3 separate regions of the Homo sapiens genome follow, and all the other regions are linked to region 2. Evidence: fine-mapped expression QTL. A gene starts in region 2. Each other region holds a variant in brackets. All regions are shown on one strand. Distances are between the middles of the regions.

Region 1 (10,193 bases), 140 kb before region 2:
AAGAGAAGAGTCTATTCCCCGCATTGGAGTAACTTGTGTGCTGCCGCCCTCTGGAGCTTGTTGTCCTACTGGGCTTAGCTGACTGCATGAGGCCTAACCAAGGCAGCACTGAGGGGAAGGAAGAACCCCTTGTGGCCCTTCCCTGCCACCCTGCACAGAAAGGACCAGAAGGTCAGCCTTGGTGTGTGTGCTTGGTCACATCCCGGCCACGACCCTTCCATCTCCAGGCATTTGTGACCCAAGTCCTGCCTAGATTGACAGCAGCACCTCCTTCTAAAACACAGCAGAAAAGAGGCCAGTCTCCACCATTGACACTCTGCGGGCTCAGTCTGGCCCAGGAGTCAAGAAATAAAGAAGCGGAGACCAGAAGGCCAGATCAGCTTCCCCAAAACACACTCTGGCTGCTTAGGGCAGCAGCAGACCCATTTCCCACTTCTATGACTCTTCCCCAGGCTTTCCAGACCCCTAAATGTAATAGCACTAATCACTGCCCAGTAAAATAGTTATTTCCAGTTCCTAAAATGCTTTGTTCTTCTTTTACACAACTTTGGGCAAAAGAAGAGCGTGTCTCATGTTGTGACAACAAAGCGTCAAGATGCACTGACCTCTGCCTGTTTAGGCAACTTGGGAAGCTCTGTCTTGGTAAATACCAGCTTCTCTCCAGCCCAGAAGCCATCTGAAGGCCCAGGCACCCCGCGCCTTGAGAGAGGACTCCTCCCATACCACGCCTTCTTCCACTTATCTGCCAACTCCAAAGCACACACCAGCTGGTCTCCACCAGGCTTGGGGTCCCAGATCTCAGGGGCAGCCAAGGAGCTCCCAGAGCAGGGGAGCAGGAAAAGGCCTGGGCAGAATGGCCTCAACCATCACCAAAGTTTCCAGTCTGCAGCCCTCCCACCAGCCCCCAGCCTTCTCCTCAAGTCCACTCTAAGGAAGGCACAACTTTATGGCAACAGCCATCTGCAGCCACCAGACCCAACCCAGATGGCTCTGCACGCAGCTTCAAGTCACCCAGATGAGCAAGCCTGGAGGAACATCAAGACCCCCAACTGTCCCCCCGCTTTAACACAGCCCTGCTCACTCACGTCCACGGCCCCCGGGAACTTGACTATCGGCTCCATCCAGGAGGTGATCTTCTGTCTGTAGTTGTTACAATCAGGAACAACCTTGCAGCCAATGTTCCCCAACTCTGGGTAGAAAACTTCAAGGCCCCTATGAAGAGAGAGGGGAGGTTGCCCTGTGTCAGGGTTTTAAGGGAGCCTGGGGTTCCCAAGGCTTCAGTCTAGCACTATTGGGAATGTAAAGTGAAATGGGATCAAATCCTAAACCTGCCACTAACTAGTTGTGTGACCGAAGAGTTACTTGACCTCCTTGTGCCTCAGTTTCCTCACCTGTAAAACGAAGACACTAATAATTCCTCCCTCATGGAGTCAGTGTGAGAAGAAAAGTGGCGGTCAATGGTCAGAACAGAACCTGGCACGTTGTAAGTCATCAGAAAGTATAATATTAATTATCATCAGCCTTTACTTCCCTAGAAGAACAGATATCCTTAGGCAAACTTAGTGTCTTTAAAGTAGGATTGAGTTTATAAAAACAATACCTATAGATTGCTTTTCAGGAACATTCTTATTACAGAAAGAAAAGCTTAGCAAGTCAGCACAGCTTCCTTCAAGGGCATAGACCTTCTCTCTCCCCTAAACAATCAAGAGCTCCCCATGCCTGAAATCCCACCATTAGGTGAAGAATTGGCTTCTTTGGGTTAAGCATTGACTGTAGCCTAGGTTCTCTTTCAAAATGCAAACATCCCTCAGGGGGTAAAACACTGGCTCACTAAGACTGTCAGTATGAATGAACCAGTTCATGTATTTGCTCCCTGAGAAGAAGGGCCCGAACAGCACCAGGGTTCTAAGAATGTGGCTTCCTGGAAGGGAAGAAAATATGATGCAGAGCAAGGCAACAGAGCCTGCAGGGCAGGGCAGGCCGGGCTGGGCCATGACAGCACCAGGCTGGCTGTAAGTGCATGCTTATATTTGACACTCAGGAACACAGGTAAGATTTTTCAAAGACATTTTTTAAAACTGTTTTTGCTTGCCCTTCTATTATAATTTATCTCCATGACCTAAGTCCTCTGTAGGGTTAACGAGGGTTAAGACATCACTGAGAGAGAAAGGGTGTGGGTAGAGAGTGGGTGTTGCAGGTCCCCAGCCTTTCCTAACACCTTGCAGGGCTAAGCCGCTCTACAGCCTGCCGGTAGCCACCCACAGCGGTCCACAGTGCCTTGCTGGGGGTGATATCTAAGGGGACCCTGTGAGGATGTAATTTGGAGAATAGATCTGGAAAGGGAGCTCCCTGAACCTGGGGCCTGGGAGTAGGCCAAGAGCAGCTTCCTGGTGGGGAACCCTGCATTGCCCCTCCCACCTTCCACCTCCCACCCTTCCAGTGGCTCCTGAAGTCCAGCCTTGGGCAAAAGGCCGCTGAGCCCCCAGCACCTGGCAGCCCCGGACCAGGACACTTCGGTGGGCCAGCGCCCCCAGTGCCAGAAGTCACATGCTCTGGTCTCAGAGAGTGGAAGCCGGATGAGTCATGGGCTTGCTGAGCAAGTTTGTTTCTTCTAACTCTTTGCGCATTTACAGCAATTCTTGGTGGATGGCAAGATTTTCACAGCTTTTGGAGAAGTTTTAGGTGACCAGTTTTATCTTCCTAGCATCATCTTAAGGACCGTTTGGTTTGTTTCTGCTGCAACTCCTTGCTGCCGCAGCTAGCGAGATGCGAGGCAGAGAGGGGACCCACCAAGGGCAGAGAGACAGACAGCAAACAGCACAGGATGGGAAAACTGAGAGGTAGGGAGGAGGTAAACTGAGGGTGGAGGGACGCCCTCACGCCCATAACCCCTCTCCCCTTTTTATCAGAGTGGAATTGTTGTAAATATCAAAAGGATTAAACAAGCAAAATCATCAAATTGTTATTTGATGAGGTGGGCACAGAGCCACAGAGAGTGCCCTGAAGGACAGGGCACATGCCAGGGAACCAGGGATTTGGGTCTTGTCTCTGTCCCTCTCTTCACGCCCATAGGGCACTGCCAGGCCAGCGTTTGAACATAGCGTATTGCCCCACCTAGGATGATGGGAAAGGGGCATGTGCAGGCCTCTGCCCTGCTCAGCTGCTTTAGCAAAGTCTTGGAGAAGGACACGGAGACAAATTTATTTGATCTGCAGATGGCACAGAGCTGGTAACCAACAATTCTGATGATCAAATTGACTTACGAGACGACCTGGACAAACCTGAGGTGAGCTGAATCAAAAATTAAAGTTACTGAGAAAATACACTTTAAATTTTGCATTCAAGACTAGGCACGGTGGCTCATGCCTATAATCTCAGCTCTTTGGGAGGCTGGGGTGGGAGCATCACTTGAGCCCAGGAATCTGAGACCAGCCTAGGCAACATAGTGAGACCCTGTTTCTACCAAAAATTAAAAAAACAAACAAACAAAAAAAAAACACCATGGTAGTGCCTGCCTGTGTTCCCAGCTACTTGGGAGGATCACTTGAGCCCAGGAGGTAGAAGCTGCAGTGAGCCATGATTGCATCACCGCACTCCAGCCTGGGTGACAGAGCAAGACCCTATCTCAAAAACAACTTGCATTCAAGCCAGAAAACCTCAAAGGTGCCACCTT[C/G]CTGTGTGCCCTTGCTGCTTGTGGTTTACCTGACATGGAATTCTTCTAATTTCCATGTGGAGAGTTTGGGGATCTCCTGATCTCCTTGACAAGACTTGAAGGCACTCTAGACAGTGGAGTGAAAAGATCAGGGGCCCTGGCCCCAGCTTTGCCATGAACTAATGCTACATAAGGGACTGGGGATGAAGGGCATGACTTTTACTGGGCCACCCCAATATATCGGGGACATCACATATGTATGATTTCATTTCATGCAACCATACCTTGAGGCAGCTGTTATCACTATTCCTATCTCCAGATGAGTAACTGAGAAACTGTTGGACAATACCTATTTGCAGCTGCTACGTGTTGGAGTGATCTGTTGTGTACAACAGAGAACTAGTACTGTGGGCTTGGCTGCACTTTCTTCCCCGCACCACACGTTTTCCCTAGTGAGCTGTTTCATTCCTCCAGGCTTCAGTTTGAGCTAGGTGGTCATGTGGGTCTCTGTCATGGCAAGAATTAGATCACAAGGGCTGGGCGTGGTGGCTCAAGCCTGTAATCCCAGCACTTTGGGAGGCTGAGGTGAGATGATCACTTGAGCCCAGGAGTTAGAGGCCAGCCTGGGCAACGTAGTGAGATCCTGTCTCTATAAAACATAGAAAAAATTAGCCAAGTGTGGTGGTACGCATCTGTAGTCCAGCTATATGGGAGGCTGAGGTGGGAGGATCGCTTGAGTCTGGGAGGTCAAGGTTGCAGTGAGCCATGATCCTGCTTCTACATTCCAGCCTGGGTGACAGAGGGTGATGCACTGAGACCCTGTCTCTAGAAACGTGGCTTCTCAGCTGTGCCTGTATGAAGGGCTTAGAATTTCAGCTGCCCCTCAGTGAGTGCTATGGTCTGAGTGTTTGTGTCTCCTCAAAATTTATATGTTGGAATTTAATCCTCAATATGATGGTATTAACAAGCGGGACTTGGAAGAGGTGATTAAGTCACCCTTATAAAAGGCACCCTCATAAGAGAGGCTGAAGGGAGCTGCCCTTCCCTTCCCCCATGTGAAGTCGCAGCAAGAAGGTGCCATCTTTGAAGCAGAGAGCAACCTTGTACCGCACACTGAATCCACTAGCACCTTGATTTTGGCGCTTCTCAGCCTCCAGAGTTGTGAGTAATACATTCCTGCTGTTTAGAAATGACCTAGTCTAAGGTATTTTGTTATGGTAGCTGAACAGACTAAGACAGTGAGGATGACAAAAAGACACATGGGATATGAGGCTGCCTCGAAGAGGGGGCTCACTGTGAAAGTGTGGGTCACCCCACTTGAAAAACAGCAAGCCAGGTATGGCAGTGCATGCCTGTAATACCGGCACTTTGGGAGGCTGAGGCAGCAGGATTGCTTGAGCCCAGGAGTTTGAGAACAGCCTGGACTACATACCGAGACTCCCAACTCTACAAAAAATAAGAAACTTAGCCAGGTGTGGTGGCGTGCACCTGTAGTCCCAGCTACTCAGGACGTTGAGGCAGGAGGATTGCTTGAGCCCAGGTGTTCAAGGCTGCAGTGAGCTATGATCAGGCCACTGCACTCCAGCCTAAGTGACAGACAAGACTCTGTCTCTAAAAGAAATGTATTTAAACAGGAGAGACCAAGGCCCCTGAGAGAGGTTGAAGGACTGGGGATGACTGCCCAGGTTGGGGGGAGCTGGGGATGAAGGGGCAGGGCAGGGCATGGCACCTGTCACCACACACATGAATGACCACAAAGAAGATGAGAAACTAGACTAGTTTGTGCACCTCGTGGATCCGCACTACAACAGGTAGGGTTGGTGTTCAAGAAGAGCAGCAGGGCCTCGGGGTAAGAATGTACTTTCTGAAGAACGGAGCTTTTCAACACCAAAAAGCAGGACGCTTTGAGCAGCAGCTCCCATCCCTAGGGGAGCTTGCAGGGCTGACTGGATGGCAGCAGCAGGTGGGGTTTTTTGAGTGGATTCACCTCCTGGCTGCAGGTTTGGAGAATCATGGTTCTTTCCATTCTGCGACTGAGCCCAGGGTTGGGACCGTCGGTGGTTTTGCTGGTCTTGTCTGGGGTATCTCAGAAGCAGGGAAGGTCTGATTCCCGAGAAGCGTTACTCTTAACAATGTCTCACAGCTTGTCACAGTACATAAAATTCCTCCCTTATAGATTAATACCTTTAGGCATTGAGTCCAATCTTTAAGAGTTCCCTGGTAGACCAAATGCCCACAAGAGGAGTGCCTTCTCTGGGGGATCTCTTGCCAAGGTCAGAGCCTGAGCCGAGTGGGGATCTTGAGGAGGGGTCAGTGCAGGAGGTCCTGCTGTCTCCTCAGGGGTCCGATCTGTCCTTGATGCATTTTTCATTTCATCATCATTCATGATGCTCTCTTCCAAACAAAAATCTTCAGTGACAATAAAGACAAAGCTCCTCTTTTGCGATGATGGCTTGAAATCAAAAGACATCTTCCTGGCATGCAACCTTAAGGTCATAAGTCTCTTTCTCAGACTGGGGGCCTGCTGGTGTATTCTGGGAGTCCTGAGAATGGGCCCCCTTGACTCGAGTCTGGGAGCCCTGAACCTGGGGTGAAGGTTGTCAGAAGCAGATAGGGAAAGAGCGTGAGTGTGGAGTCAGACAAGGGGGCTAGATCTTGGCTCTGCTACTTTTAAGCTATGTAAACACTGTGGGCAGATTTCTTAATCTCTGGGGATTCTTCATCTGCAGAATGGGGGTGCTAACACAGACTTTGTAGGTTCGTTACTGACAGTGAAAGGAGTCAAGGAGTCCAGGCACCGGCAGAGCACCTGGCACACAGAAGGTGCCCTGGGACTTCCCACGTGTGTCCCCATGCATGGGTCACCAGGGCACCAACATGTGATCTTGGCAGGGCAGAGCCTAGGGCATCTGGAGCCTCAGGCTGGTCACCCCCAATGACCCTACAGACATCCTCATTTCCCACAGTGTGGGAAACACCAGGAACTGCTGAGGTCCTCCTTAAGGGGCCCTTATTGTGGCCCAGGCCTGCTGTACCCTGGCCCAGCTGACCTCTCCTGGTTACGGGGGTGTTGACCTTGCACTGCTCAGAGCGAGAAGCCTGCCAGCCCCTCAGCTCACTCAGCAGAGCACCTAGAAAATTAGATCCCACTTGTGAGAGGCAACCACGTTTCTCTTCCTCCTTCCACGTGAAAACTTCACCCAGAACTGTTTTCTTGCTTGTTTGTTTTTTTGTTTGTTTTTTGAGACAGAGTCTTGGTCTGTCGCCCAGGCTAGAGTGCAGTGGCGCAATCTCGGCTCACTGCAACCTCCACCTCCCAGATTCAAGGGATTCTCCTGCCTCAGCCTCCTGAGTAGCTGGGATTACAGGTGTGCGCCACCATGCCCGGCTAATTTTTTTTTATTTTTAGTAGAGACAGGGTTTCACCGTGTTGGTCAGGCTGGTCTCAAACTCCTGACCTTGTTATCTGCCTGCCTCAGTCTCCCAAAGTCTTGGGATTACAGGTGTGAGCCACCGTGCCCAGCCTACACCCAGAACTATTTAACAAGATTTTTCAAAATATACTGACACGAACAAAGTTTGTTACTTTTTGTTGTTGTTGTTGTTGTTGTTTAGGCAGGGTCTGGCTCTGTTGCCCAGGCTGGAATGCAGTGGCGCAATCATGGCTCAGACCAGCCTTGACCTCCTGGGTTTAAGCGATCCTCCCACCTCAACCTCTTGAGTAGCTGGGACGACAGGTGTGCATCAGCATGCTTGGCTAGTTTTTAAACTGTTTTGTAGAGAAAAGAGTCTCTCTATGTTGCCCAGGCTGGTCTCAAACCCCTGGGCTCAAGTGATCCTCCACCTTGGCCTCCCAAAGTGCTGGGATTACACATGTGAGCCACTTCACCCAACAAAAATGTTACTTTTTAAGAAGGATTCAACTACATAATTTTAAGAGAAGACATGTATTTATGGTTCTAAAAGTAATGTTTGTCAAAAATGTTTTAAATAAAATTAAAAAGAAAAACAAACATTTTCATGAACAGTAATGTTTGTGAAAATTCAAAGGTACAGAAGAGAGTAAGTAGTCAAAGTTCTTTTTCCTCCTCTCTCATTTCTCACACGTGGGCTCAGTGGGGTGTCCCCCTCCTCAGCCACCAAACTGGCAGGGAGGTTTGGCATCAGTTTGGCCTGGGGAGTCCTCAGGATGACCCACAAGTCCACACAAATGAAGGCTTGCTTTTCTAACCGGCAGAGTTGGTGAGGAGAGAGCCGAACGCCAGGCTTTCCAGCTTACCCAAAGTAGAAGCAGCTTGTGCCCTTGGAAGGGAAGAAGCCAGCCTCGTCACCCAACTCCATCCAGTGCCATGATCCCTAAAGGGCCCTGCACAAACGCTCCTGGGTCCTATCACTGACAAAAACCTCTCACACAGGAAGGGTCTAATCATACACCTTCTTTCATTCAAATGCCTCTTTGTTGGGGTTCTGGGGAGAGGGGGCATTCAGGCTGCAGGGAGGGATGGTCTCTCTCTGGGTCTCTCTCTGAGGGTCTCAGCCTCCTGCCCCCACAAAGACCCCCCAGGTTTGGAGGGCCCAAGCAGAGCCGACCACATACACAGCCCTCCTGGTCCTGGGAGAGGTGCATTCTGGAAGGCAGGAAGGAGTCTGTTTCTAAATCCCTTTCTCAGTGCCATCCTCCATCAAGGTGGTCTCCAGATCTGACACGTGTTCTGCCTTCCCATAAAATCAGGCTCAGGAGATGGTGCTTCTTGGTTCTGGATATACCCCTCCCTGCCATCTACCTGCCTGGTAGCCTCTGTGCCTCCCGCCTCCAAGCCTGCCCTGACTTACTGGCAAAAGAGGGTGTCCTCGTCCAAGAGGGCCTCATGGGCACACGGGCTGTTCTCATCCTCGTCTCCAGTGACCACCATCATGAGACCCAGTAACAGTGCTGCTGTGACCAGCCTCATTGTCCAACCCATGGGCACCTGGAACAGAAAGAACTTTAGAGCGGCTGGATCCCCTGCAGGGGCCTTCCTGCCCACTACCTGTGCCCCCGACCCCAGGGGCCCACTTGGCAGGATAGAGACCTCTGGTTAAGCACAGGGAGAAGGACAGGCAGCTTCCAGGGCTCCGCAGCTAATCCAGTCCACCACCCGGACACAAGTACTTTGGGAGGACTGGGCCTCTTCCAAGTTGGACTCAATGTACGTTCCTGGCAGAGGCCCCTCCCCTGGCAGGACACAGCTTTGTTGTCACTCTTGTCCTGGCTGCCAGGGCAGAGAGCAGGCTGCAAAGTAGAAGTGCTTATATAAGCTCCTCGGTGCAGCTCCTTGTCCAGTCCCTGCTGTTGGCCCAGGGATGGTCAGCTGGCCAAAGGCCAGCCTGCTCCTTGGCTGTAAGGCAAGCCCTGGGAAGCTGGTGACCCCAGGCTCAGGGCTAGGAGTTGGGCTGTGCCCCTCAGACCGGCTCTGACTCTCCTGGCCCCCATTCTTCCACCACCTGTCTCCACAGCCTGTGAGCTTCCCCAAGGTGGAGGTGGTTGGACACAGTGACCTTGTGTAGGAGGGACTGCTGCAGGGGGTGGGGGTAGGTGCACCCCAGACCGAGGCCAGCTCCGAAGGGCCAGCTCCGAAGGGCCAGCTGAGGACAGAAGGGTGCGTCTGGGTGCACCTTGCAGCTGTGCTGCACTCAGCACTCTCCCAAAATAATCGTATCTGGAGAAGGAGGTCTGGGGAGCTGCTTGGGGCTCAGAAAGGGGTGGCCTGCCCCAGCAGTGCACTGGGAGGAAGGGGAGCCGGGGACTGTCGCCTGCATTCCCTTGGGGAACAGTCCTGCCACCAGGTGCATGTGGGACTCTGGTTTGAGCCTGAGTGGGCAGGGAGAAGAATAAAGGCGGCTTGCAACAGGCTTTCCAATAGCTCTGCTCTCTGCTTCTCAGAGGCGGGGGTGGGAGAGACGTGCCAGCAACTCAGGACTCCTGGCTTCTGCTCTGAGCTCTCTCTGGATGCTGGGAGGCCACTGTGTCTCCCTAGAATGCACCACTTTTCCTTTTCACAAACAAGTAAAATAATTCCTGTCACCGTGGTGCCTTGCTAAGGAATATGAGATCATCGCTGTAAAGTACACGCAGCTAGACCTTTAGAGAAACTACTTTCAGCATAGTCTGCTTTCTGGCTCAATTCCTGCCTCCAGGATCCCAACCTGTAGCAAAAAGCCCCCCTTAGGGGCTACATATTAAACACATTTCTCAATCATTAGGTTCTCTGAAGTACAACCAGGACTCCCCCTTGCCCCAACCAGAAAACATATTCCCAAGATCTCCCCTAGTGGACAGAGTCTAATAGTAGCCTCCTCACAAGATCATTATGAGAATGAAATCAACCAGGTTAAGCCCTCAGTAAGGTGCCTGGCACATAGTAAATGCTCAATAATTTATGAATAGTCTAAGTATTCTCTCACGGATCCATCCATTCATTCATTCCTTTGCAACCCACTTCACTCATAGGCATTAAGCACCTCCCACGTGCCTGCCCCATGTTGGGCCCTGGGGTATAGG
Region 2 (10,193 bases):
CTTTCCTCTTCTTACCAAACCCATTGCATCACCGGCCTGCGTTATCATCATTTCCCTCAGATCTGCCTCAGCTGCCACTTGCCTCCTTCACGATAATGCAACCTGACCCTCACCCTAACCACTAGGACCCATCCCGAATGCTGTCCAGGCCACACCTGAGTGCACCCACCTAGTCCACTCTCCACTGGGTGAACAATGATCTTTAATGGGTGGATCTGATGAGGGATGTCCCCGGGGAAAACTTGACAATGGCCTTGGTGACTCTGGACTTGGGTGATCCTCCGTACTCTATTCAGATCCTCTGTTCTGTCCTCAGCCTGCCTGCCACACTCCCCACCTCTCACGTTTAACACACTCTATGAGCAGGCTGAGGACACAACGTCTGGGTTAGTGCAGCTTCCTAGAATCCACGTTACTCATTCATTCATTCATGGAAGGCATGTAGGCGCCTGGCGACCGCATATGCAAGGAGCCGTGGAGTATCGGGAACATGGCACGGCCCTTCCTTTCCTTAGCACAGTTTCCATTCACAGGAGCTGAGGCACAGCCATCATTAACCCCAAAGTCCATGAACTTGCAAAGAGTCTGGAGGGGCTGCCCAGGCAGAGGTGACAAATGCCATCGGTGGCAGGGACAGTAGTGGACATAGAGGAAAGAGTGCACACAGACAGAATCCCAGACAGACAGGAATCCAGTGTAATGGGGGAGGGGAGTAAAAACAAGAGAGGTACTGCTGAATTAATATTGTAATATGATTACAAAATGTAGGAGAGTTGAAATAATATAGATCCATTCATCACCATTCACTCTTTCTGCTGTGCAGGACGAGGCTGTGCCGTCCGTGGGCCTCTCTGATTGAGGGAGAATGGGCGTGTGGCCAGAGATGCACAGCTGTGTTGGGCCACAGAAATGGGCTCATGGGGGTGTCCATGGGCATGGTTAAGAGAGAGAAGGAAAACAAGAAGAAGGGAGGTCAGGGGTTTGGCTTATTTCAGTTCTTGTCCCATTGAATTCTAGGGACCCTGCCTCCTCCCGGACATGAGCCATTGGCGGGGTTTCCCTGTCTTGTGACTCACCCACCTGTGATTCAGGCTCCTTGCTTTACACCAAGTTTGAGCATAAAACCTGCTAATATTTCTCGTCAAAAATTAACCCGAGTAACCTCTTCTTTCCTCTCTGAGTCACCCACATCCTTAAAACTGCCCAGGATAATCACAGTTCCTGCATAGGTTGTTGTGTGAACTGAAAGTGTTAATATGTATGGAAAGTGCTTAAAACACAGAACTTTAAACACATGCTCTGATTAGTACGATCATTACCCTCAATGTTGATTTTAAGCAAACCATATTATCCTGGCCAAACTACCATGACCTGGAGCCTTGGGACTGCACAGCCTCCCTCTGTCAGTCAAATATGGAGGGATGACATCTCTGGAGCCAGCACAGCCACTCTGGAGGTGGGGGAGGTGACAGTGGTGGGACCTCATGCTTCCTGATAGTTATTTAGGTCCCTGCTGTCACCTGCTCCACCAGACTGTGGGCTCCAGGGAGTAGTCAGTATTCACACAGGGCTCATTTGTCCTTCCCCAACCCAGGCACAGATTTTCCCAGAGTAAAGGGTTCCTCCTCTACCTGATGAATGAATCACTCCTGTCCCCGCCGCCAAGCACATGCAGTGAGACTAGCTGTGGCCTCAGCTCACTGCGTAAGGACAGCCTCCAGCTACAGCAGGGGCAGAGGACCCTGTAGAGCTCTGTAGTCTCTGTTGAGAACCACAGGCAGGAACTCCCAGAGGCCAAGTGCAGGGCAGAGACTGGGAGAAGCAGCTGCCTGGAGGACTCTGGATCCTTGCAGAAGACATGTCCAGTGTCTGCTGAGACTGACTCTAGGTGCCTGAGAAGAAGCCACCCAGGGAAGGAGAGACTAGATTGTGGACCACTCAGGGCTGGGAGATCTGCATGTTCCCCTTCCCACAGTGGACAGAACGCATGCCAGGGTGCTGGCGAGTTACCATCAGAAGTCAACCACTATAACTTTAGTAGTTAACTAAATGAGCCCCTGAATAAGGCAACTGAACACAAGGTATATAGTTATATGTAGATAAAAGCTAGTATCAGAGGAGCAAACTGATCCTCAGTTTTCTGTGACCAGAATAATGCCCAATAGACTTTGAAAGAACACAGTGATGTTCGGTACCCAAGAAAGCAAAATTCACAATGTCAAGCAATAAGAAATTACTATGCATGAAAAAAAAAGTCCCTATGGGCAGGAAAAAAAATGTAATCAACAGAAACAGTGGCCGTAATAACAGATATAATGGTGTTGATAGATTAAATAACTTAAAACAGGTCATCTAAAGCTTACAAATATACTCAAGAATATTTAAAAAACAGAAAAACAAAAAACACCACCACCAAAATCATAGGTTGCGCACGGTGGCTCAGGCCTGTAATCCCAATACTTTGGGAGGACAAGGTGGGAGGATTCCTTGAGCGCAGGAGTTTGAGACCAGCCTGGGCAACATGGTGAAACCCCGTCTCTACTAAAAATACAAAAATTAGCCAGGTGTGGTTGCAAGTGCCTGTGGTCCCAGCTACTTGGGAGGCCGAGGTGGGAGGATCACTTGAGCCCAAGAGGTTGAGGCTGCAGTGAACTCTGACTGTGCCACTGCACTCCAGCCTGGGTGACAGAGTAAGACCCTGTCTCAAAAAAGAAAAACACAAAGATGACCAGGAAATAGATGGAAGATATTAAAAATGCCAAAAGAGAACTTCTAAAGTTCAAAAAATATATATCTGATATACAGTAGATGAGATTAACAGCAGGTTAGATTCTGCAGAAGCAGATCAATGAACTTGAAGAGCCCTCACAGGGAAATGTCCAAAGTGAAACATAGAAAATGATGGGGGAAAAAAAAGAACAGATACTAAGTTAGCTCTGATACAAAATCTAACATTCTAACGTAAATATAATAAGATCTCAGTCACCAGAAGAGACAGAGTATTTGAAGAAATAATGGCTGAAAATCTTCCAAGTAGAACATAAACTCGGCTGGGCGTGGTGGCTCACCCCTGTAATCCCAGCATTTTGGGAGGCTGAGGCGGGCAGATCACGAGCCAGACCATCCTGGCTAACACGGTGAAACCCCGTCTCTACTAAAAATACAAAAAGTTCGCTGGGCGTGGTGGTGCATGCCTGTAGTCCCAGCTACACGGGATGCTGAGGCAGGAGAATGGCGTGAACCCAGGAGGCAGAGGTTGCAGTGAGCTGAGATCCCACCACTGCACTCCAGCCTAGGCGACAGAGGCAAGACTCCATCTCAAAACAAACAAACAAACAAACAAAAACATAAACTCTAAAACCCCAAATCCAAGAAATTCAACATAACTCTGTTGTGGCTTTCTTTCTTTCTTTTTTTTGAGTTGGAGTCTTGCTCTTGTCTCCCAGGCTGGAGTGCAGTGGCGCCATCTCTGCTCACTGCAACTTCTGCCTCCCAGGTTCAAGTGATTCTCCTGCCTCAACCTCCCAAGTAGCTGGGATTGCAGGTGCCCACCACCACACCCAGCTAATTTTGTATTTTTAGTAGAGACGGGGTTTCACCATGTTGGTCAGGCTGGTCTCGAATCCCTGACCTCATGTGATCTGCCCGCCTCGGCCTCCCAAAGTGCTGGGATTACAGGCATGAGCTACCAGACCCGGCTGTTGTGGCTTTCTTTACAGAAAAGTCTCCAAGGAGAACATAAACTCTAAAACCCCAAATCCAAGAAATTCAACACAACCCAGTTGTGGCTTTCTTTACAGAAAAATCTTCCAAGTAGAAAGAACATGAAAGTCTAAAGCCAAAAATCCAAAAAATTCTTTATAGAGATAAAAAAAAAACCCCACAACAGAGCAAACAAACCAAATCACTGCAAACCAGTGCTAAGAAAAATCTTTAAAAGCAGCCAGAGACCAAAGATCCACCACCCAAAGAGAGGCAAGATGCCCTGGGGACCTAGGCCCACAGAAACCACAGCAGGAGGGGGAGGCAGAGGCCCCTGTACACTCTCCTCACTAGGACAGTTAGGTCCTCCCTCCACTCAGAGGTGAGACCAAGGACATACTGTGGTGTGGGGCGGAAACAGTGAAAACATGAGGTGTGTAACAATATCCCATGAAACTCCAATGCTTCACACTGACATTCTTCTAGGTCAACACCAGCATTCTCTTGACCTTCCTTTCACTGTTCCTCCTCTCCCTTCCAGCCCCTCTGTACAGTCTTGAGTTAGGTCTAGGCCCACACACTTCCCCACTCTGAGCTGCGGTCTCTTCCTCTGTAAAATGTGATGATTCAGAACCTCTCCTGGCCCCAAGCGCAGTTCCAGGCGCTGAGCACACCATGCTGTTCCCTACAAAGCCGACTCTTTGTCCCTTCCCCATTATCACGGATACTTGCCAAGAGGTGGCAAGAAAGGCTCTTCCCAGGCCAAAATGCAGCTGCTATTATCAAGCAGGTCAGGCCCCAAGTGCCACAACTCCCTTCTCCTAAATCTCGTTTTCCCAAGGAACCCCAAACAATGGCATTGGCGATGAGCGGCCCCGCACGCGTAGGGGCGCAGCCGCTAAGGAGGGGAAGGGGCCTCTCCAGCTGCGCCCGCGACGACTCCCGCGCACGGAACGGAACCACTGGGCCGCAGCGACCACAGGGGAGTTCTTCGCCGGCCGCAGGTTCAAAGCGATCTGCAATGAGCGCCTTTAGGAATTCATTCGAAGGCGCAAAAGAAAAAGAAATTAAGGCAGGAACTGAGCGAGGAAGGAAGGGAGGGAAAGAAAGGAAGAAAGAGAAAAAGAGAAAGAAACAGAAAGTAAGGAAAGAAAACAAAATCAAAGTCCGACGACCTCTCCGTGGCTTCACGCAGCTTACTCGGGAATTCCCTCCTTGTCGCCCTCCCCCACTGGATTCGGGAATTTACACCAAGTGGAGCGCGCGCTCTGTTCCCTGGCGGCCCAGGTCGCTCCTGCCCAACCCGGGGACCCATCTCTTCCCCCGACTCCGACGACTGGTGCGTCTTGCCCGGACATGCCCGGCCGCAGGCGACCCGGGCCACGCACCCCCGCCGTGTCCCCCTCTCTCCCTGCCCTCTCCAGGCGCCAGGCACGCTCTTCCCCAGCCAGGGACCGCGGCGGGGACTCACCAACAGCAGGACCGCGGCGACAACGAGCACAAGGGTCTTGGGGACCCGGGGCCCAGGCCTGGCTCCCCGCGCCTCCCTGGGTCCTGGGCCGTGCCTTTTCCGGGCCCCCGAAGCGGCCGGGGCGTTCTGTCCCCGTTGTTCCATGGCGGTAGGGAACGCTCTTATAGTCTCTCAGGCCCGTGGGTTTCAGCCCTTAAAGTAGATCGGGCATCGTCGGTGTATTTTGTGGGCGCAGAGATTGCGGGGTTCTCCGGCCGCGTGCTGATTTATGTGTCCAGGCTGACTTGGGGCGGCGCGGCTGTACTTTCACTGCCTCCGGGCAGGCGTCATTCGGGGCGGGGCGAATCAGATCCAATGTGCAACTGCAAATTCCACCACAGGTTGGTGACAATAAATAAGAGTCTCGTCAACGCAATCCTCCGCAAGCGCGTCCAAGTGGGGAGGGGAGGGGAAGGGACCGGAACTAACCTTCGCCCTGGCGGCTGCGCCCCGGGCTGTGGTTTGTTTCTGGGTCCTGTCCGCGCCAGGACAGGCACCGAAACTTGGGGGAAATGAGTTGAGGGAGGCACTTGGGGAGTTGACGCCTCCCGGGGTCGCGCGCTTGGCTGTGAACAGGGTCTTGAGGTTCAGAGTCCGCTTTCCAGGCGCGTCTTGATCTTCTCCCCTTCCCAGGGGCACCTGCCCCTTCTGTTCTCTCCTTCTCTCTTCTTTCCTTTTTTCTTTCGTTTTCTTTCGTTCTTTCGTCTTCTTTCCGTCCTTCCTGCTTTCTCTTTCCTTCCTTTCTCTCTTTCTCTTTCCTCCCTCCCTCCCCCTCCCCCTACCTCCCTTCCTTGTGGTTTATTTTTTGAGACAGTCTCTCTGTGGCTCAGATTGGTGAGCGGTGGTGTGATCCCGGCTCACTGCAACTTCCGTCTCCCAGGTTCAAGCGATACTCCCACCTCAGCCTCCCATGTAGCTGGGACTACAGGCCTGCACCACCACGCCTGGCTAATTTTTGTATTTTTAGTAGACACAGGGGTTCACTATGTTGGCCAAAAGACCATCGAACCCAGCTTACACTCACACCTAGTCCACAAATGTGCCTGTGTCCCTGCACCCTTGCTACACTTAGCTTTCATTTGTCACTAGTCTAGGAAATAAAACATGATACATCACATTGTTATGTATTTTCATTCCTTCATGGTACTGTGTCCGGAATTGGTGGGTTCTTGGTCTCACTGCCTTCAAGAATGAAGCCTCGGACCCTCGCGGTGAGTGTTACAGTTCTTAAAGGCGGCGTGTCTGGAGTTTGTTCCTTCTGATGTTCGGATGTGTTCGGAGTTTCTTCCTTCTGGTGGGTTCGTGGTCTCACTGGCTCAGGAGTGAAGCTGCAGACCTTCCCAGTGAGTGTTACAGCTCTTAAGGCAGTGGGTCTGGAGTTGTTCTTTCCTCCTGGTGGGCTCGTGGTCTCGCTGGCTTCAAGAGTGAAGCTGCAGACCTTCAAGGTGAGTGTTACAGCTCATAAAGGCAGTGTGGACCCAAAGAGTGAGCAGTAGCAAGATTTATTGCAGAGGGAAAGAAGGAAGCTTCCACAGTGTTACCACTGCTGGCTCTGGCAGCCTGCTTTTATTCTCTTATCTGGCCCCACCCACACCCTGCTGATTGGTAGAGCGGAGTGGTCTGTTTTGACAGGGCGCTGATTGGTGGTTTACAATCCCTGAGCTAGACACAAATGTTCTCCACTTCCCCACCAGATTAGCTAGATACAGAGTGTGGACACAAAGGTTCTCCAAGGCCCCACCAGACTAGCTAGATACAGAGTGTCAATTGGTGCATTCACAAACCCTGAGCTAGACACACGGTGCTGATTGGTGTGTTTACAAAACTTGAGCTAGATACACAGTGCCAATTGGTGTATTTACAATCCCTTAGCTAAACATAAAGGTTCTCCACGTCCCCACCAGACTCAGGAGCCCAGGTGTCGTCACCCAGTGGATCCCGCACCGGGGTTGCAGGTGGAGCTGCCTGCCAGTCCCGCGCCGTGCTCCCGCGCCGTGCGCCCGCACTCCTCAGCCCTTGGGTGGTCGATGGGACTGGGCGCCCTGGAGCAGGGGGAGGTGCTCGTCGGGGAGGCTCCGGCTGCACAGGAGCCCACGGAGGGGGTGAGAGGCTCAGGCATGGCGGTCCCGAGCCCTGCCCGTCGGGAAGGCAGCTAAGGCCCGGCGAGAAATCAAGCGCAGCGCCAGTGGGCCGGCACTGCTGGGGGACCCAGTACACCCTCCGCAGCCGCTGGCCCGGGTGCTAAACCCCTCATTGCCCGGGGCCGGCAGGGCCGGCCGGCTGCTCCGAGTGCAGGGCCCGCCGAGCCCACGCCCACCCGGAACTCCAGCTGGCCCGCAAGTGCCGCGCGCGCAGCCCCGGTTCCCGCTCGCGCCTCTCCCTCCACACCTCCGTGCAAGCTGAGGGAGCGGGCTCCAGCCTTGGCCAGCCCAGAAAAGGGCTCCCACAGTGCAGCGGTGGGCTGAAGGGCTCCTCAAGTGCCGCCAAAGTGGGAGCCCAGGCAGAGGAGGCGCCGAGAGCGAGCGAGGGCTGTTGAGGACTGCCAGCAAGCTGTCACCTCTCAGTACTACGGATTTTCAAGAATACAGGAGTTTTTGGTACTGGGAGTAGATGACTGGGGGGATCCAGGCAAGACTACAGGGGAGGGCGGCAGAGAAGACTTAATTCCCAGCTGTGTACTTGGAAAACCGTGCTCAGCTGGGGCCAGTCCCTGCCAACCGCCATGCCTGTTAATGGAAATAAGGTCTCCATCCTCAGGCTGTCAGGGTGACTTCAGATGAGCCTGGAGCTGAGCTCAGTTCCGGACCCCAGGTCCTGGCTCTGTCAATGCCGGACTGGTCCAATCTCTATGCCAGGTCCTTCCAACCCCATCCCTCTCTTTATCAAAGTAGGAATCAAGAAGATCCGAAGGCTCAGGCTCTCAGGTTGTTAGAGAGTACTGAAATTGGAGGCTGTGGATGGCTGGGCCCTGCCGTGCTCCCGGTCCAGCTCTGACTCTGGTATGGCCCCAGCTCCTTCCTGTAAAATGAGGGGATAAAAATCTTCAGCAGCCCTGTGTAAACTTCTGCAGGCTCTGTTAACAGGTCTAGGAGGACAAATTGCAGGGCTGGTGTCAGTCACTCTAGACTCTGGATCCCCAGGGCACATGTCCTCCACTCAGCAGAGGCTGCACCTTCTCCTACCTGTACCTCAGTACCAGCTCCCTGAGCTTGAGGCAGAAATTTCTGAAGACTGGGGTGGAGCGCCATGCGGAGGGGCCGTAGAGGAACAGACGAGCCAGAATTCAAATGAGGACGGTGATGGCACTGCAGGGCCACAGCCTGGTTTACCTGCCACTCTTCCAATTGTCTTTCTGTTGGGCACCCAGCCGGTGCCCCAGTTTGAAGAGTGAGCAGGAAAGGTCTCAATCCGTGTGGCCACAGATGGCTGTTCACAGCCTCTACTGAGAGACCACAGTCCCAGTTCCGGTTCTCTGTCCTGCATCCAGAAGTGGCAGGGCAGCGAGGCTCTAGCTTCCAGGTTGGGGATGGGGACAGTGGAGACAGTGCCATGCCCTGAGCCTGTGCTGTTGGGCAGCTGGTGTCCTGCTCCCAGCCAGAGACTGCACATCTTCATGTAGTGGATTTTCCTAACAACCTGGGGACATGAGAGTAGGTTGTTTTCCCTGTTTTACAAGTGGCAAAACTGAGATTCAGGAGCAGTGTCTCCAGCATTTTTGGCCTCACCTTCTGTATAATAGCAGCCATATTTGCACCTCTACAGGGCTAGAGTTCTCTGAGCAGCTGCTTCTCTATTCTCTGTCCTGCACTTGGCCTCTGGGAGCTCGTATGGTTCCTCAGCAGAGTCCACAGGGCCCTCCCTGTGCTACAGCCTGGAGCCTGTCAGGCGGTGAGCTGAAGCCACGACTGCACTCACCTCATGGGTTTGCGGGGAGAATGATTCACCCAGGAAGCAGACAGTGAGCCCTTTACTCTGGGAACACCTGTGCCTGGAGTCTGCTGAAGGCAGGGAGGACAAATGAACCCCATGTGAATCCTACTCCCTGGAGCCTACAGTGTGGTGGGAGAGGTGACACCAGGGGTCATATAACTAATAGGAGGTAGCATGAGGGAGGCCTGAGATCTCACCACCCTTGCCTCCCCCTCCTCCAGAGAGGCTGTGCTGGAGGGAGGCCATGCCATTGCAAGGCCATAGGATGTGGTATTGTTTGCCTGGAAGATGTGGTTTGATTACAGCCACCATTGAGGGTCATGGAGGCAAGCTAAGCTCCCTTTAAGGGTATTTTTTTTTTGGCTGGGCCTGAGAATTAAGTTGACATAAGACAGGTCCACAGGAGAAAAGCACACAAATTAATACAATGCAAGTTTTACATGGCACAGAAAAAGCAGTGAGAGTCAGTTACTTATATACTGAATTAGACCAAGTAACTTGGGAAGAAGCAAGTAAATATGTGGAGGCTAAAAAGATGAGTTATTCTATTCTTTTTTTTTTAATATCTGCTCCTTTAAGGAATAAAAAAGACAAGCTTACCTTTTAAAATATATTTTACATATGTATACAATCTAAATTTATTTTTCTCTCTTTATCCCTGAATACTTTATTATTTTTTTTTTAATTTTTTGGAGACAGAGTCTTGCTGTGTCGCCCAGTCTGGAGTGCAGTGGCATGATCTTAGCTCACTGCAAGCTCCGCCTCCTGGGTTCACGCCATTCTCCTGCCTCAGCCTCCCAAGTAGCTGGGACTACAGGTGCCCGCCACCACACCCGGCTAAATTTTGTATTTTTAGTAGAGACAGGGTTTCACCATGTTAGCCAGGCTGGTCTCTATCTCCTGACCTTGTGATCCACCTGCCTCGGCCTCCCAAAGTGCTGGGATTACAGGCGTGAGCCACCACGCCCGGCCTACTTTATTATTTTATTTTTACTTTAAGTTCTGAAATACATGCGCAGAATGTGCAAGTTCGTTACACAAGTATACTTTT
Region 3 (10,193 bases), 63 kb after region 2:
GTGCAGTGGCGCAATCTCCGCTCACCACAACCTCCAACTCCCTGGTTCAAGCGATTCTCCTGCCTCAGCCTCCCTAGTAGCTGGGATTATAGGCACACACCACCATGCCCAGCTAATTTTTGTATTTTTAGTAGAGACAGGGTTTCACCATGTTGGCCAGGATGGTCTCGATCTCCTGACCTTGGCCTCCTTGACCACCTACCTTGGCCTCCCGAAGTGCTGGGATTACAGGAGTGAGCCACCGCGCCTGGCCCACTGTCTTTTACAGACACCTAAAAGCTGAAGGGTCTCAGATGAAAAAGGTGAATGAATATCAGTGAATGTCACTTGTTTCTTTTTATATTCTTTAAACGAGGCTGTACAAAACATAAGCTCGTATTCCTGGCCCTCTCTCTCTCTAAGGAAGGCGGTGTGCCGTGTGATGCACACACATTTTATTGAATCCCATGTGAAAAATAAATAAATCTTGGGACCATAAAATCACTAAGCCAAAGGGAAAAGTCAAGCTGCGAACTTTGTCAGGCAAACCTGCCTCCCATTTTATTCCTAAATAAGATAGTTACAAAGATTAAAAAGCTGCATACCTCCCTCACAATTCGCCCATGAGGGAATTCCTTGTGGGCCTCAAGATCCTTACCCTAAAACAGTTCTGCTGAATTTCACTCTGGCAATGTAAATTGATAGCTGATCTTCACATGTGGGACAGAAAGTCATCCCTCTGTCCACCTGAGACAAATGCATATCTGACTGCTTCCTCCGCCCTATTGTTTATGAAAAATGCAGATTCACTGAGCCAGACTAAGGCATGAGTGACTATTCCTCCACCTCTACTCTTTTACATATAAGCTGTGTATTCAGTGAAAGGCTGATCAAAGACCCAAAAGAATGCAACCTTTTGTCTCTTATCTACCTATGACCTAGAAGCCTCCACTTCTGGTTGTCCCACCCTTCTGGACAGAACCAATGTACATCTTACACATATTGATTAATATCCCATCTTTCCCTAAATGTATAACAGAAAGCTGACCCCAACCATTTTGGTTGGGACCTCCTGAGCCTGTGTCATGGGCGTGTCCTCAACCTTGGCAAAATAAGCTTTTAAAAAATTTTTATTTATTTATGTATTTATTTTTGAGACAGGGTCTCGCTTTGTCACCCAGGTTGGAGTGCAGTGGCAGGGTCTTCGCTCACTGTAACCCCTGTCTCCCAGGTTCGAGAGATTCTTGTGCCTCAGCCTCTCGAGTAGCTGGGATTACAGGCATGTGCCACCACACCCAACTAATTTTTGTATTTTTAGTAGAGGCACGGTTTTGCCAAGTTGGCCAGGGTGGTCTGAAACCCCTGACCTCAAGTGATCCACTGGCCTTGGCCTTCCAAATTGTTCGATTATAGGCAGGAGCCACTGTGCCTGGCCACAAAATAAACTTTCTAACTTGATTGAGACCTGTCTCAGATATTTTGGGTTCGCACCCTCGCAGTCCTGAGATCTGGGTGGGGTTGCTCCCTCTTGGGGTGACTTATTGCTCAGGATCTGTTTGCCCCACCTACCTCTGCCCCGGCCTCAGGGAATGAGGCTGAGCTGGGTGTAAACAGAGATCCCCCCCACAGACCCTGCGGTTTCCACAGATGCAGAAGTGGCCACCCTGGGACCTGCTCCCATGACAAGCGCAGCCCAGGCAGCCTCCTCCCTCCTCTGAGCTCCTGCTGCAGCCACTGTCTCTCCCTCCCTCGGACTCTCACCCACTTTGCTTTCAGCCTCACTGGATGGGTTCTCAGCCCTGTGTGAGGGCTGATTCTCTGATGACCTTGACTCCCTGCAGCGCCTTGGGTGTCAGGGAGGCCAGGCAGTGTGGGCGCGCTCTCTATGGATGGGAAGCAGGTGGGCGCTGGAGCAGTAGGTTCATCCATGCAGGGGGCTCTCCAGGTTCCCCCCTTGGGTTCTGGGCCTAATGTGGGAACTTCTGTCCTTTCTGAACTGAGTCCCAATTCACCTGGCTCTCTACATGGCTTTCTCCACCCAGCTCAGAGGCTGTGCTTCTACAACTTTGGACAGATCCTACCCTTTAACTCCTGGAACCCGCTCATGAGGCAGCCGAGCCTCATGGACAATGAGATCCTCATGGCCAGAGCTGATGCAGCGATCCCTGGGAATGCCTTGTACGGATGCTAGTGAGATGGGTCAGCAAAACCAGGTGGGGCCCCTTGGTCCACACCCTGCAGGATGCCTTGGAAACACTGGCAGAAAGATGTATTTACAGGCATAATTATTTTTTAAAAACTCTGAAGCTAGGCCGGGCGCGGTGGCTCACGCCTGTAATCCCAGCCCTTTGGGAGGCTGAGGTGGGTGGATCATGAAGTCAGGAGATTGAGACCATCCTGGCTAACATGGTGAAATCCCATCTTTACTAAAAAATACAAAAAATTAGCCGGGCGTGGTGGCGGGTGCCTGTAGTCTTAGCTACTCGGGAGGCTGAGGCAGGAGAATGGCGTGAACCCGGGAGGCAGAGTTTGCAGTGAGCCGGGATCACACCACTGCACTCCAGCCTGGGTGACAGAGCAAGACTCCATCTCAAAAAAAAACCAAACTTTGAAGCTAATATATTATATTAGATGTTTTGGTCAATACATTCATTTGTCTCATTCTTTTTAACAAAAGCATAGTAGCTTCTTTCATAGTGGAACTATGGTCCATTCTACTGTTGCCTTCTGTGGGTAGTTGCATTTGTTTTTGAAAATTCTAACAGCAATCATCTTGTAGGTATCACATATCCAGATAGTCATGTGCACTACTTAAAAGCAGAATTGCGGAGTCGATGAGTTAATGATTTAAAAATTTTGTTTAGATTTTGACAAATTGTCCTCCAAAAGAAAATTACAACAAGTTTACTCTCACACCAAGAGTCCTACACCCTTGCTACTCTGAACTTTCATTCTTTGCTAGTCTAACAAGTAAACAATGGTGCATCTCACTGTTGTGGTTTTGATTTCTCAGCATTATTTGAGGATTTTCCAGGGTCCGGGAGTTTTCTGAGACTGAGTGTAAATGATCCGCAGACCTCAGATGAGATGGCAGAGGAGGGTGGCAGGGAAGACTGAATTCCCAGCTGTGCACTTGGAAAACCGTGGTCAGCTGGGGCCAGTCCCCACCACCTGCCATGGCTGTGAATGGAGATAAGGTCTCTGTCCTCAAGCTGTCAGGATGACCTCAAATGAGTCTGGAGCTGAACTCAGTTCCTGACCCCAGGTCCTCGCTCTGTCAGTGCTGGGCTGGTCCAATCTCTGTACCAGGTCCTTCCACCCCGCCCCTCTGTCTATCAAAGTGAGAACTGAGAAATTCTGAAGGCTCAGAAGCTTAGACACTCAGGCTGTCAAAGAGCCCAGAGATTGGAGGCTAAAGACGGCCAGGGTTGGCGGTGCTCCTCTTCAACTCTGTGACTCTGGTGTGGCCCAGCTCCTTCTTGTAAAATAAGACAGAGAGGCCTTATTTATGCAGAGGGCCTGTATAAACCGCAGTGGACTGTGTTGGCAGTGTGAGGTTGTGTGGGAGGACAAACCACATCCTCAGGGCTTGTGTCAGTCACTCTGGACTGGATTCCCAGGGCACATGTCCTCCACCCAGCAGAAGCTGCACCTGCTCCTACCTGCGCCTCAGTACCGGCTCCCTCAGCTTGGGGCAGAAGCTTCTAAAGACTAGGTTGGAGTGCCATGGGGAGGGGCCATGGAGGAACAGAGGTGCCAGACTGCAAGTGAGGACAGCGATGGCACTACAGGGCCACAGCCTGGTTTACCTGCCATATTTCCAGTTGTCCTTCTGGTGGGTGCCCTGCCCAGGTTGCAGTTTGAAGAGTGAGCAGGAAAGGTGTCTGTCGCTCCCACATCTAGGTAATGTAAAAGCTAAACCCTCCAGGGGAACTGTAAAAGTTGGGGTACTATATGGGTGGCCTAAGCACTTGACTCCTCGGGGGAGAAGCTGGGGGTTGGGAGTTTTCTCCTGATGCGCAGCAGTGTACACGGGGTGGTGTTTGTGTGTGAATGTGTCCCAGCTTTTCCTGCCCATTTCAATGTGGAGTTTTCTCAGTTCCCCATGTGTAGGAGTCTCTCCACTAGTTTCTGGGTTTCTCTCAGATAAAACTGATTCATGTGTAGATGTTTATTTGGTGCTTCCACAAAGAGAGGAAAAGTGGAGAGCCTCCTGTAGAATTATCTTGCTGATGACAAAAACCTGGTTTTCCTGGTTTTAAACCTAACTTAGCTTCACTCATGGGTACTGTGCAGAGCTAGGTGGGGGGAAACAGACTCTGAGGGATAATTTACCTTGTATAATGGAGCAAGAATTACCAGCTCAGGGACTATAAGGAGGATTAAATGAGATGTGT[G/A]TGAAATGTACTACATACACTACCCGATGATATATAAGGTGAGTCAGGAATACAAATTTATATTTTCTGGGTTTTTTTTTGTTTTTTTGTTTTTTAAGACGGAGTCTCATTCCATCACCAGGCTAGAGTGCAGTGGTTCAATCTCGGCTCACTGCAACCTCCACCTCCTGGTTCAAGTGATTCTCCTGCCTCAGCCTCCTGAGTAGCTCGGACTACGGGCATACACCATCATGCCAAGCTAATTTTTGTATTTTTAGTAGAGATGGAGTTTCACCATGTTGGCCAGGATGGTCTTGATATTTTGACCTCGTGATCTGCCTGTCTTGGCCTCCCAAAGTGCTGGGATTACAGGCATGAGCCACTGTGCCAAGACACAAATTTATATTTTCTAATATCCTCATGAAAGAAGTACACGACATTAATGTTCATGACATTTTATTCAATGTAATATAACCAAACTTTTCTCATTTCAACATGTAATTAATGCACAATAAAGTATTAATGAAACATTTTACATTCTTTAGTACACTAAATTCTTTTTTTTTTTGAGACACAGTCTCCCTCTGTCGCCCAGGCTGGAGTGCAGTGGCGCGATCTCGGCTCACGGCAAGCTCCACCTCCCGGGTTCATGCCATTCTCCTGCCTCAGCCTCCCAAGTAGCTGGGACTACGGGCGCCCGGCACCACCCCCAGCTAATTTTGTTTTTGTATTTTTAGTAGAGACAGGGTTTCACCATGTTAGACAGAATGGTCTCAATCTCCTGACCTTGTGATCCGCCTGCCTCAGCCTCCCAAAGTGCTGGGATTACAGGTGTGAGCCACCGCACCCGGCCTAAATTTTGTTTTGTTTTGTTTTGTTTTGTTTTTGAGACAGAGTTTCGCTCTTGTTGGCCAGGCTACAGTGCAATGGGGCGATTTCAGCTCACCGCAATCTCCTCCTCCGGGGTTTAAGTGATTCTCCTACCTCAGCCTCCCAAGTAGCTGGGATTACAGGCATGCACTATCACGCCTGGCTAATTTTGTATTTTTAGTAGACACCAAGTTTCTCCATGTTGGTCGGGCTGGTCTTGAACTCCCTACCTCTGCCTCCCAAAGTGCTAGGATTACAGGCATGAGCTACAGTGCCCGGCCTAGTACACTAAATTCTTGAAACAGGGCAATCAAATTGCTCATCAAATTCAGGTTAGCCTCAGCTCCAGTGCTCAGGAATCCGGGGGCCAGTGCCTGTCATGCAGGACTCCGCAGGCCCTCAGGAGGCCCTCTACCTGATATAGGCCCTGAACTACAGCCAGGAGGGAAGGTGAAAGAGGAAGGGAAAGACAGATCGGTGTAGGGTGTTGTTAGGGGACAAGGTCGGATACAGTAGGGGGAGGAGAAAAGGGTGGGAGAAGAGGATTTAGGATTCTATTGGTCTAATGAGAAATGGCATAACTATAAGACAATCCTATTCATGATGACTACAAAGAATAAAATAGAAGGATAAACCCTTGACAGAAGCAGGAAGCTTGAGCCCAGGAGGTTGAGGCTGCAGTGAGCCCTGTGCTCCAGCCTGGGTGAGAGAGTAAGACCCTATCTCAAAAAAAAAAAAAAAAAAAAACTAAAGAAGTTTACATTACCTTTTGTCCAGGAGGGGACTTTCATAAGATTATAATCAATGACAAAATAGACATATCAATAGATTAAGCTTCTTAACATTAAAAATTCTGCACATGGAAATCTTTGACCAAATAAAATTGCAAACAAGAAAGTAGAAACCTATTATCTGCATCTGAGAAAGTGCATGGGTAGGGACCCGTATCTCAATAGGCAGGATAAAAGTTGTAAGTTATCAGTTTGAAAAGAGAATCAAACAGCTAATAAACATGTGACACCTAAGTCCAAAAATAAAGAAATGCATATTTAAGTTAATTAATTTCTTCCTAGTTTGAGAAAACAAAAACGAAAGAGCAAGCACATCAGCTCAAGACTAATGAAGTGTTGTTGGAACCAAAACTGTGCATGTGTATGTGGTGTGCACATGGGTGTGAGTGTGTTTGTGTGTGTGTGTGTGTGTGTGTGTGTGTGTGTGTGTGCAGAAAAAAATGCCTCTGGACATTAACACAGTAATTCTATTTCTTTCAGGAAGCTACCTTATGAACTTGGTCAGAAAGTTGTCCAAGATTTCTTTTCAAATACATACACAAACTTCTGGCTCTAAGTCCATCTTGAGACTGTAGACTCCCATCCTCACCTTCAGAGGGGCATTCCATGGGGTGCCCAGGGTGTGTGTTGGGAGAGAACCAGATTGGAGTCAAAGGTCAGGGAAAGGAGCACTGGCCTAGAGAATAAGTCTCTTGTAATGAAAGGCCATAGGACACAGAGCCTTATTGTGGAGTCCTAATTAGGGAAAGTGAGCCAGACTGGTGGGAGCAGGGGAAAGCAAAAAGAGAAAGCAGGTAAGCGTGAAAGGAAAGTAAATCTTGGGGGCCCCAAATCACTTAGCTAAAGGGAAAAGTCAAAACTGAAAACTTCTTAGGGTAAACCTGCCTCTCATTCTATTCAAATTCACCCTCTGCTCACTGAGATAAATGCACATCTGATTGCCACCTTTGAAAAGGCTAATCAGAAACTCAAAAGAATGTAACTATTTGTCTCTTATCTACCTATGAGCTGGAAGCCCCCTCCCCGCTTGGAGTTGTCCTGCTTTTGCTTCCAGTTAACCCACCTATTCTGGACTGAACCAATGTTCATCTTACATATGTTGATTGATGTCTCATGTTCTCCCTAAAATGTATAAAACCAGCTGGGTGTGGCGGCTCACACCTGTAATCCCAGCACTGTGGGAGGCCAAGGTGGATGGATCACCTGAGGTCAGGAGTTTGAGACCAGCCTGACCAATATGGCGAAAAACCATCTCTACTAAAAGTACAAAAATCAGCCAGGCATGGTGGCTGGCGCCTATAATCCCAGCTACTCAGGAGGCTGAGGCAGAAGCTTGAACCTGGGAGGTGGAGGTTGCAGTAAGCCAAGATCACACCACTGCACTCCAGCCTGGTGACAGAGCAAGACTCTGTCTCAAAAACAAAACAAAACAAAACAAACAAAACACCAAACTGTGCTCTGACCACCTTGGACACATGTCATCAAAACCTCCTGGGGCTATGTCAAGGGCATGCATTCTCAACCTTGCCAAAATAAACTTTCTAAATTAACTGAGATCTGTCTCAGATTTTCACGGTTTACATAAATCTGCCTTTCTTCGTGGTCCAGGACACAAAGCCCTCCTGTGCAAATAACTCACAATCTTCCCGCACTCAGCTATCATCAGACACCTGCAAGTCGGCTCACTGCAACCTTGGCTTACCAGTACTGCACAAAGCCCTCTTCAACAGTTGGCATAAACACTAGCCTATAAAATCTCCAGTAAGCCTTTGTTACTTTGCAGTCAGCTCCTCTTCTGCTGGCTTGCCCATTGCCTCCTTGCTACACATTTTCCTACTTTCTCTAATAAATCTGCTTTTTTTTTTTTTTTAAGATGGAGTTTTGCTCTTGCTGCCCAGGTGGGAGTGCAATGGTGTGATCTCAGATCACTGCAACCTCCCCTTCTGGGTTCAAGCAGTTCTCCTGTCTCAGCCTCCCGAGTAGCTGGGATTACAGGCACATGCCACCACTCCTGGCTAATTTTTGTATCTTCTGTTAGAGACAGGGTTTCACCATGTTGGCCAGGTTGGTCTTCAACTCCTGACCTTGAGTAATCCACCCGACTCACCCTCCCAAAGTGCTTGGATTACAGGCGTGAGCCACCGTGCCCAGCCATAAATCTGCTTTTCTTTACCTACAACTGTCTTGGTAAAATCTGTTACCTCTGCGCCACTGGGCCAGATACTGGTCTCTCCCCTGTGACACTTATTTACTGCTGGGTGGGATAAAGGGAAGAAGAAGAGGGAGAATGGAGAAGGAGGAAAGGCAGGGTTGGTCCAGAGAGGAGGAGAGCCGGGCTGGAGGAATGTGGAGGATGGAAATGGTAGCTCCCAGCCCCCAAGGGGCAAAGGCTGGGCCACAATTGCCCCTTTCTGTTTTCTAACCCTGACCCAAATTTCACTGCCCACATCCTTCTTAGATGTAAAAGATGCAGTCCCACGGAGGAAGGGCAGAGCCAGGAGGCAGTGGGGCTCTGGGCTCAGAGCTCAGGAGTCACCTTGCCTGAGAAAGATGTTCTAGCTGAGAGGGCCTGGCCATGGGGTGGGCTCCAGGAAAACGCTGGTTAGGTCTGGGATAGAGCAAACTTGAAACAAAGACAACCCCTGCCATGGCTGTGTGGCGCCAAGACTTGGAGATCAGGGGTTAAATCCTCATAGACAGTAGGCGGTGGCAACACAAGCAGCTCTAACTCTGGGGGAAGCCATGTTGCCCAAGCCCAGGCCCCTCCATGCTCAGCCTCCATGCAGCTCACCCAGCCCAGGGTTCCAAGTGAGGCCATGGGCAGTGCAGGCGGGAAGCAGGAGGTAGCATGGAGCAGCCGCAGCCCCACCTCCCCTCTAGGGAAGGCAGACAGCATGGGAGCACGCCTGGGCCTCCTGGGAGCTGTGGGCCAGAGGGAGAGCAGGTCCTCCAGCGCAAGGGGAGTGGGAAATGGCTCTCACAGGTGCCTGCAGGGCTGAGCAACCTGGGTCCACTGATGGGGATACAGGGAAGGGCTGCTGTCCCTCTCCCCAGAGGGAGGAGCAGACAGGAGAGAAACAGGGAGGAGGCGCGAATTCCAGTAGCCAAGAACCTGGTCCTTTAAAATCCAGGGAGTCATAGGCAGGAAACTCCCCCCACACCCCCACCGCCAGGCGGGCCAAGCCTGAAGGCAGAGAAGGGACAAGTAAGGAGGCCCAGCAGGAACGAAGCCCTGGCCTCCTGTCACTCAGAGCTGTGTCACAGCAGGAGAGGAGGATGGAAATAAACGAACACCACACCTTTTTAATATGAGGTTTCATATTTATTTTGGTCATAAACATATGAGTATTTCATATATAACCAGGTGTTATGTGCTATTTGGCCCGGGTATAAAGCAAAACCTAAACAAATCAACCAACGCCAAAAAACCCCAACAATTTCATGTTGTCAGGAAGCTTATGTTAAAGGAATAAGCTTAAACACTGATAAGGCTGGTAGTCTAGATGCATCTTCAAGGAAGGCCTCTGAGGAAGGGACAAAGGAGCTGGGACCGGACTGGCTCTCTCTGAGCTTTGAGACCAAGTCTCCTGCACAGAAGGCCCAGCAAAGGCAAAGACTAGGAGGCAGCAGCACCCTGTGTCATCCAGAAGTGCAGGGGACAAGGTGTGGGACGCCAGATGGAAGTGGGAGAGGATGGAAGTGCGAAGACCGGAAAGGCCATCCCCTCCTAAAACTCCATGGACACAACAATCTGAATGTGCGAACTTCAGGCAGTTCTAACTTTGTCCCAGCCAAACCAGTCCCGGAACAAAACACACAATGCCTTGAGATGGAAAAGACTGAAACCCCTAGAATGACTATATCCGTAATTTATCCTACCACGACTGGGCTACTGTGGAGAAGAGTTTGCTGGAAAGAAGCTAAAACGATTACTGAGGTTTTTAAATAAAATAATGGAACGTGACACAAGGACAAATGTGTCAGCCATTTTAGATCCTGTTGTCACAGTGTTTAAGAATTGATATCTCTGAGATGAGTCAGATGCTTACAGAGGGGCCAAGCTCCTCAAACAGGGAATCTGTACCCTAAAACGCAGCTCAGGAATCTCTGCCCTAAAAGGCATCCCAGGGACTCAGTTCACAGACCACCAGAAGCGAGAGGGGCCCATCCATGCCTG

Which allele goes with the higher level. Positions count from the first base shown, and alleles are read on the strand shown. Sizes are in standard deviations (SD) of each study's normalised expression. Not every link is listed here.
As copies of C replace G in region 1, the expression in skeletal muscle of the gene that starts at base 5,454 in region 2 goes down (small effect, 0.18 SD a copy in GTEx).

Evidence for each region. PIP is the estimated chance that this variant, and not a neighbour inherited with it, causes the effect.
Region 1: its variant is the best candidate, but not a certain one, in a credible set for the expression of TNFRSF10B in skeletal muscle (GTEx, PIP 0.86).
Region 3: its variant is the best candidate, but not a certain one, in a credible set for the expression of TNFRSF10B in whole blood (INTERVAL, PIP 0.71).

What each region holds. Positions count from the first base shown.
Region 1 is chr8:22,919,099-22,929,291 of GRCh38, forward strand. It overlaps PEBP4 (phosphatidylethanolamine binding protein 4), which reads right to left and starts at 8,816. Exons shown (of 7, transcript NM_144962.3): 1 at 8,725-8,816; 2 at 8,486-8,622; 3 at 1,086-1,212. The coding sequence starts at 8,616. RefSeq lists an enhancer at 448-1,376. The variant C/G (reference allele first, on the strand shown) is at 3,674.
Region 2 is chr8:23,063,578-23,073,770 of GRCh38, forward strand. It overlaps TNFRSF10B (TNF receptor superfamily member 10b), which reads right to left and starts at 5,454. Exons shown (of 9, transcript NM_003842.5): 1 at 5,174-5,454. The coding sequence starts at 5,317. It also overlaps the pseudogene TNFRSF10B-AS1. RefSeq lists enhancers at 394-1,593, 4,838-5,097, 5,638-5,687, 5,708-5,877, 6,659-6,953 and 1 more, promoters at 2,833-6,546, 5,314-5,984 and a cis regulatory region at 5,439-5,444.
Region 3 is chr8:23,126,272-23,136,464 of GRCh38, forward strand. It overlaps TNFRSF10D (TNF receptor superfamily member 10d), which reads right to left. Exons shown (of 9, transcript NM_003840.5): 9 at 9,317-10,193. Among named protein-coding and RNA genes, the nearest start is that of TNFRSF10C, 28 kb to the left of the region's middle. RefSeq lists a silencer at 3,541-3,610. The variant G/A (reference allele first, on the strand shown) is at 4,377.